3 separate regions of the Homo sapiens genome follow, and regions 1 and 2 are each linked to region 3. The links come from fine-mapping of genetic effects on gene expression. A gene starts in region 3. Each other region holds a variant in brackets. All regions are shown on one strand. Distances are from middle to middle. Region 1 overlaps KIF15 (kinesin family member 15). Region 2 overlaps KIF15 (kinesin family member 15). Region 3 holds the start of ZNF502 (zinc finger protein 502).

Region 1 (2,765 bases), 110 kb before region 3:
GATCAAATCAATGAAATAAAGCGAGAAGAGAAGTTTAGAGAAAAAAGAGTAAAAAGAAATGAACAAAGCCTCCAAGAAACATGGGACTATGTGAAAAGACCAAATCTACATTTGATTGGTGTACCTGAAAGTGATGGGGATAATGGAACCAAGTTGGAAAACACTCTTCAGGATATTATCCAGGAGAACTTCCCCAACCTAGCAAGGCAGGCCAACATTCAAATTCAGGAAAAACAGAGAATACCACAAATATACTCCTCGAGAAGAGCAACCCCAAGACACATAATTGTCAGATTCACCAAGGTTGAAATGAAGGAAAAAATGTTAAGGGCAGCCAGAGTGAAAGGTCGGGTTACCCACAAAGGGAAGCCCATCAGACTAACAGCGGATCTCTCAGCAGAAACTCTACAAGCCAGAAGAGAGTGGGGGGCAATATTCAACATTCTTAAATAAAGAATTTTCAACCCAGAATTTCATATCCAGCCAAACTAAGATTCATAAGTGAAGGAGAAATAAAATCCTTTACAGACAAGCAAATGCTGAGAGATTTTGTCACCATCAGGCCTGACTTACAAGAGCTCCTAAAGAAAGCACTAAAAATGGAAAGGAACAACCAGTACCAGCCACTGCAAAAACATGCCAAATTGTAAAGACCATCGACGCTAGGAAGAAACTGCATCGGTACTGCTGACATCTCAGCTCACTGCAACCTCCCTGCCTGATTCTCCTGCCTCAGCTTGCCGAGTGCCTGCAATTGCAGGCACGCACCGCCACGCCTGACTGGTTTTCGTATTTTTTTGGTGGAGACGGGGTTTCGCTGTGTTGGCCGGGCTGGTCTCCAGCTCCTAACCGCGAGTGATCCGCCAGCCTCGGCCTCCCGAGGTGCCGGGATTGCAGACGGAGTCTGGTTCACTCAATGCTCAATGTTGCCCAGGCTGGAGTGCAGTGGCGTGATCTCAGCTCGCTACAACCTCCACCTCCCAGCCGCCTGCCTTGGCCTCCCAAAGTGCCGAGACTGCAGCCTCTGCCCAGCCGCCACCCTGTCTGGGAAGTGAGGAGCGTCTCTGCCTGGCCGCCCATCATCTGGGACGTGAGGAGCCCCTCTGCCTGGCTGCCCAGTCTGGAAAGTGAGGAGCGCCTCTTCCCAGCCGCCATCCCATCTAGGAAGTGAGGAGCGCCTCTTCCCGGCCGCCATCCCATCTAGGAAGTGAGGAGCGTCTCTGCCCGGCCACTCATCGTCTGAGATGTGGGGAGCGCCTCTGCCCCGCCGCCCCGTCTGGGATGTGAGGAGTGCCTCTACCCGGCCGCAACCCCGTCTGGGAGGAGAGGAGCGTCTCTGCCCGACCGCCCCGTCTGAGAAGTGAGGAGCCCCTCCGCCCGGAAGCCGCCC[C/T]GTCTGAGAAGTGAGGAGCGTCACCGCCCCGCAGCCACCCCGTCCAGGAAGGAGGTGGGGGTCACCCACCGCCAGGCCAGCCGCCCCGTCCAGGAGGGAGGTGGGGGGGTCAGCCCTCCGCCCGGCCAGCCGCCCCGTCCGGGAGGTGAGGGGCGCCTCTGCCCAGCCGCCCCTACTGGGAAGTGAGGAGCCCCTCTGCCCGGCCAGCTGCCCCGTCCGGGAGGGAGGTGGGGGGGTCAGCCCCCCGCCCGGCCAGCCGCCCGGTCCGGGAGGGAGGTGGGGGGGGTCAGCCCGCCACCCGGCCTGCCGCCCCATCCGGGAGGGAGGTGGGGGGGTCAGCCCCCCCGCCCGGCCAGCCGCCCCGTCCGGGAGGGAGGTGGGGGGGTCAGCCCCCTGCCCGGCCAGCCACCCCGTCCGGGAGGTGAGGGGCGCCTCTGCCCGGCCGCCCCTACTGGGAGGTGAGGAGCCCCTCTGCCCGGCCACCACCCCGTCTGGGAGGTGTGCCCGGCAGCTCATTGAGAACGGGCCATGATGACAATGGCGGTTTTGTGGAGTAGAAAGTGGGGAGAGGTGGGGAAAAGAGTGAGAAATCGGATGGTTGCCGTGTTTGTGTAGTAGGAGGTAGACATGGGAGACTTTTCATTTTGTTCTGTACTAAGAAAAATTCTTCTGCCTTGGGATCTTGTTGATCTGTGACCTTACCCCCAACCCTGTGCTCTCTGAAACATGTGCTGTGTCCACTCAGGGTTAAATGGATTAAGGGCGGTGCAAGATGTGCTTTGTTAAACAGATGCTTGAAGGCAGCATGCTCGTTAAGAGTCATCACCACTCCCTAATCTCAAGTACCCAGGGACACAAACACTGCGGAAGGCCGCAGGGTCCTCCGCCTAGGAAAACCAGAGACCTTTGTTCACTTGTTTATCTGCTGACCTTCCCTCCACTATTGTCCTGTGACCCTGCCAAATCCCCCTCTGTGAGAAACACCCAAGAATGATCAATAAAAAATAAATAAAAGTTTAAAAAAAAAAAAGGAAAAAAAAAAGAAACTGCATCAACTAACGAGCAAAATAACCAGCTAACATCATAATGACAGGATCAAATTCACACATAACAATATTAACCTTAAATGTAAATGGGCTAAATGCCCCAATTAAAAGACACCAACTGGCAAATTGGATAGTCAAGACCCATTGGTGTGCTGTATTCAGGAGACCCATCTTACGTGCAGAGACACACATAGGTTCAAAATAAAGGGATGGAGGAAGATCTACCAAGCAAATGGAAAGCAAAAAAAACCAGCGATTGCAATCCTAGTCTCTGATAAAACAGACTTTAAACCAACAAAGATCAAAAGAGACAAAGAAGGCCATTACAT
Region 2 (2,765 bases), 68 kb before region 3:
AAAAGACACAAGAAAGATGTTCACAGCAACATTATTCGTATGGTTGAAAAGTTGAAATAATCCAAATGTCTATCAACAGTAGACTGGAAAATGTGTAGTATATTCATACGATAATATATTATACAGTAATGGAAATAAACTACTACTACATGCAACAACATGAGTGAATCGCAGAAACTTAACACTAAAAGACATCAGAAACAAAAGATACACAACAAAATATTATTTGTAGAGGATCAAAAACAAGCAATATTAATGATGACAGAAATCAGAGTAATTGGCATTCCAGGGGACAGGGTTTGGTAGTTACTGACCAGGAATCTTGATCTGGTTAGTGGTTATACAGGTGTATAAACATATACGAATTCATTAAATCCTACTGAAAAACTGTTTATTCAGCACCACTCTGTGCCAGGCATTGAGCTGGAAACATAGCTGCAAACATGATTAACACATGGACTTTGCTAGCAAAGAACTCACAACTTGGCAGAAGCCTAGGGAATTTCCCTAATTTCAAGAGATCAACATCATATATAGAAATTATGCCTTTCCCCAAAATGTTGTAGGTTACTGTTATCACAGAAAGAGTAGATTAAGCCAACAAAAGTTAATCTTTACTTACCCATCATAGTAAATGTCTTCCCTGAGCCAGTCTGTCCACTGTAAAAAATGTTTTACATATTATTTTTACACATAAAATTAAAAGACTACTCCTCCTATTATAATACTAGTGTATAAGTTTTCTCCACAAAAAGTTAGCTTATTTTCTTTCTATTTTTAAATTCTATTAGATAAAAAGTGAATGATCTGCCTCCTTTCTCTCCAATCTCCCTACAAAGAGCTAACTGCTGTTAATTGGCAAATGCTTCTATATTACACAAACATAGCCATCAGAGTTTTCATTTAATTTTTATTTACCAAAATTGGGATGATGCTCTTCATACTGCTTTGCAACCTATTTTTCCCTTAATTTTACCTCAGATATCTTCCTAGGTCAGCAATAGAGGTCTGCCTCATTATTTTTAATAGCTACACAGTATTCCATGGTTTTGGGATCATATAGCATCTTGCAGCACCATAATTTATTTAACCAGAATCAAATGAACTTTTGTTTCCAATTTTTGCTATGCCAAGTAATACAGCATTTCCTTTCCTAAATTCTTTGTCTTTAAAAGATACTAAAATCTCTTCATTTAAATATAAAGCAATAAAAAAATTCTTATGCTATAGGTTTTTGTGCAATGTCATCTCTCCTGTTATCCCACTTAACAGAAACAAGAGTAACAAAAAACTAAAAGTAAAAACGTTGAAGCCAGGCAGTTCCAGCTACTGAGGAGGCTGAAGTAGAAAGATGGCTTGAGCCCAGGAGTTCCAGGCTGTGGTGCACTAGAATCACAGCTGTGGATAGCCACTGCACTCCAGGACTGGGCAACATAACAAGACTCCATCTCTTTTAAAAAAAAAAAAAAAAAAAAA[AG/G]TTGTATTTTAAAGATGTTAATCAAGATATCAAAAGACTTTAGCTTAGATTCACAGCAAAAACAGAAAATTTTGGATTTACTTTTTCATTAAATGCCCCCCAAAACTAGAAAACAGTATGCTATAGTTTTTTACCCCCTTCTTCTGGAAGAAAAGAGGGAAAAAAATTCTTTAGTAACTCAGAATGAGAAATGGATATTATTGAGTCCTCTACAAATAGGGTAATCCTTTTTTTTTTTTTTTTTTTCACTCTGTCACCCAGGCTGGAGTGCAGTGGCACGATCTCGGCTCACTGCAACCTCCACCCTCCGGGTTCAAATGATTCTCCTTCCTCAGCCTCCTGAGTAGCTGGGACTACAGGCATCTGCCACCACGCCCGGCTAATTTTTTGTATTTTTAGTAGAGATGGGGTTTCACCATCTTGGCCAGGCTGGTCTTGAACTCCTGACCTCGTGATCCACGCACCTCGGCCCCCCAAAGTGCTGGGATTACAGGTGTGAGCCACCGTGCCCAGCCACAAATAGGGTAATCCTATAGATTATTGTCCAAACAGGCACTTGAGAGTGAAGAGGACACTACTAATAATTACTTGACAATTGGTATTGTCCTCAGTAAACCAGACAGTATACCCACCCTGCCATGTATTACCTAGCTCTGTCTGCTGAGAAGGCCTAGAAGCAATGGCATTCCAATAGCAACAAACCAAACACACCTAGCGCCCAGATCTTGGTTTCTAAATACCATGCTCCAATAAAAGGAATTAGGGTTCATTGGTGAAATGGCTGATTCTAGGCGTAGGTCAGGGAAAACACAAGATGAGCCCAGAGCATCTTGTAGCATCATAAAGTAAGAAGGGGCTCAAAAAACAAAAGGATGAGCTATAGCAAAGGGACACAAAAACCAACCTCAAGGAGGGCCCATTGGGCAAAGCTGGAACAACAAGAACAACAAGGTAAATAATTTTTAGTACTGGATTATAACCTAAAGAATAAAATAAATGCATATCCATAACATATAAAGAATTGAATAAATGTGGAAAACAGACAAATCTTTCTTTTTTGTTTTGGTTTTTTTTTTTTTTTTTTTTTTGAGGCGGAGTCTCGCCCTGTCACCCAGGCTGGAGTGCAGTGGTGCAATCTCGGCTCACTGCAACCTCTGCCTCCTGGGTTCAAGTGATTCCTGCCTCAGCCTCCCAAGTAGCTGGGACTACAGGCGACCACTACCACATCCAGCTATTTTTTTTGTATTTTTAGTAGAGACGGGGGTCTCACCATGTTGGCCTGACTGGT
Region 3 (2,765 bases):
TGGCGCGGTGTTTCACGCCTATAATCCCAGAACTTTGGGAGGCCAAGGCGGGTGGATCACTTGAGGTTGGGAGTTCGCGACCAGCCTGACCAACACTGTGAAACCCCGTTTCTACTAAAAATACAAAATTAGCCAGGTGTGGTGGCGCATGCCTGTAATCCCAGCTACTCGGGAGGCTGAGGCAGGAGAATCGCTTGAACCCGGGAGGCAGAGGTTGTGGTGAGCCCAGATCACCCCGTTGCACTCCAGCCTGGGCAACAAGAGTGAAATCCCGTCTCAAAAAAAAAAACAAACCAAAAACCAAAAAACAAAACTGTACACGCAATACGCTGTTGTGAAGATTAAATCAATTAGCACAAATGCTTCAAATAGTGCCTGGTATACAGTAAGTGCTAAATAAATGTAGTTTAAAATATTACCACCAAAATCTGCTTATGCCCTTATCGTCCTAAACAAGACTGGAAGCATCTTTACATGTGGCAGTCTCCGATGTCACTCTTTTGTAGCCTAGCCACTAAATTCGGGGTAATGTTTGGCATATAATGGATAGTAATCCTTCATTGGGAGGCATTAAGGTTTGCATACATGCTATCACATACAAGCTGTCAACTGAGCTTTGTGAAGAAGCAAGGAACAGACTTCTAGACAGTACTTTAGAGATTTCTGTACCCTCCAGAATTGTAACTCAGGTCTCAAGACTCCCAACGAGTGCACTTTACGCTATTTGCCGTCTCCTATAAAAACAGGCTCTAAACAAGTTTCGGAGCTACAGGATCAGCCGGGGGAAGAAACTGGTATCTGATCCCCAGGACCTCGTTTCCTGACATGGGTCCTAGGTCTGTCTTGATCATCTATCCATCACTCATTCACTCATTCATTCATTCACTCCGCCATTTTCCTAGGCATCTCCTCTGTGCCGGGCACTGTGCTGGGCCTTGGAGTCTGCAGTGCTGAGGCTGCAGGCTGGGCGGGCCGAGCCGCTAGGAGTGCCCTACGTCCGGGCAGCACGCGTAGGCAGCAACGTGGAGAGGACCGAGGCCGGGGCTGACTTCCCAGATAACCCTCCAGCCCGCCGCCCCAGCAATGGCTCGCCGGGGTCCTCTCTTTTCCCCTCCCTGGGTCCCAACTCGCTCACTGTGAGATCCACGGACTCTCCGCGGAGCGGCGCAGGCGCTCCCAGAGGTGGACTGGGGCCAGGACACCAGCCTTAACTTCTGAAACCGGAAGAATGGTGGCGCGGCCGGTAGTGCGTCAGCAGCGAGCTCGCGCATCCATTCTCTGATTCTCTAGGAAGCGGGAGGAACATCTCTATGGGACCCTAGAAGAAGGCATTCCCTCCAAACCCAGCCTGTAACTCCAGCTTTGTTTCCCGCCAAGCCCAGCCTGTAACTCCAGCCTTGCTTCCCGTCAAGCCCAGTCGCGTTCCTGATATCCCATTAACAACTATCTTGGCCTGAAACACAGTGGCTACCTCAACCCTCAGGAAAACTGTAGAGGGAGACGTTAGGGATGGAAAGGATGCTGGGTAGGAGCCGGAATGGGCCATCTCAACAAGAAACTAGTATATTCTACCTGCTTAAAATAGTCTCTATTAAGAACCTTGAGTGATCCCCTGTTATGTTAGAATAAAGGACAAACTCCCAATCTAGGCCCACACAAACTGACCTCAATATCAACATCTCTTATTTGGCTATCATATACATTCTGCTCTAAAGTTACTGAATTCCCATTGGCCCCCTGAAATCCCTTGCCTCTTCCTGACTCTAGATCTTTTTCCCAGGATTTTCCCTTTGGAATACTCTCCCTTCCTTCTACCTGCTCTCCCTAACCTCAGCTATCCAATTTATCCTGGTTCTTCAAATCCCAATGCCAATTCTCACTTGACCACCTAGACTGTTGCCCTTATGGGTCTTTACACTCACATATCACTATTAGTTATTCTAGCTCTAGCTAGCCTTCTATTCAGTGCCCCCCTAAATGCATACACTTGTATTTCTTTCGTAGGTATTGTTAGGAAGATACACACAAGTAGCATCCCACCCAAGGACAACTGTGAAAGACCCAATCAGTTCATTTTTATACAACTCTAATCAGCTATATGGAGCTATTATTTATCATTATATCTCAATGTTTAGCACAATGATTGGTAGAGAAGGCATTCAATAAATACTTGTTGAATTCGTTAATCAGAAACAGGTGAAATTTAGATTATTGGCATTTTTGATAAACTGAAAAATGAGGATACCATAGATTAAATCCAGAAAGCAAGCTCTCTGCACATCTGAAAGGATGTACCACGTAGCTGGCATATTCCCGTTTCTTTGGCTCACTCTATCCAATTGTTATCTCCCTTGGTAGAATGTAAGCTGTATGAAGGCAGGGGCCTTCTCTGTTTCATTCATACTATATCCCTAGCACCTAGAGCATGGCTGACATACTAGGCATTCAATCAGTATTTGATGAATGACTAGGTCACCATCAACTTCCAACAAGTTACAGGAAATAGTTACTCCACATAGATGTATACTGCTTGTTTGAGAGCTAAAACTGCTGGAAAATTATCTTTCTTCCCCCAGATTACCTAAAGTGTACATTCCAGAGATGAATGTTGCTTCCCTGTGAGAAATAGAAACTCCTTCTAAATTATATTTACCTGACCCCCACCAAAAGAGATTATATGAAGGTATTTTCCATTCTGGGCGGCGGGGTCGGGGACGGGTTGAGAGGAGAGGGAAGGGGAAACCGGTGCAGAGGGGGAGGCACCA

Evidence for each region. PIP is the estimated chance that this variant, and not a neighbour inherited with it, causes the effect.
Region 1: its variant is the best candidate, but not a certain one, in a credible set for the expression of ZNF502 in whole blood (INTERVAL, PIP 0.78).
Region 2: its variant is the best candidate, but not a certain one, in a credible set for the expression of ZNF502 in monocytes (Quach 2016, PIP 0.54).

Annotation. Positions count from the first base shown.
Region 1 is chr3:44,819,994-44,822,758 of GRCh38, reverse strand. All of the region lies in intron 20 of KIF15 (kinesin family member 15), which reads right to left. Among named protein-coding and RNA genes, the nearest start is that of MIR564, 41 kb to the left of the region's middle. The variant C/T (reference allele first, on the strand shown) is at 1,391.
Region 2 is chr3:44,778,780-44,781,544 of GRCh38, reverse strand. KIF15 (kinesin family member 15) reads right to left here. Exons shown (of 35, transcript NM_020242.3): 5 at 623-660. Among named protein-coding and RNA genes, the nearest start is that of KIF15, 18 kb to the right of the region's middle. The variant AG/G (reference allele first, on the strand shown) is at 1,477.
Region 3 is chr3:44,711,111-44,713,875 of GRCh38, reverse strand. It overlaps ZNF502 (zinc finger protein 502), which reads right to left and starts at 1,216. Exons shown (of 3, transcript NM_001134442.3): 1 at 1,136-1,216.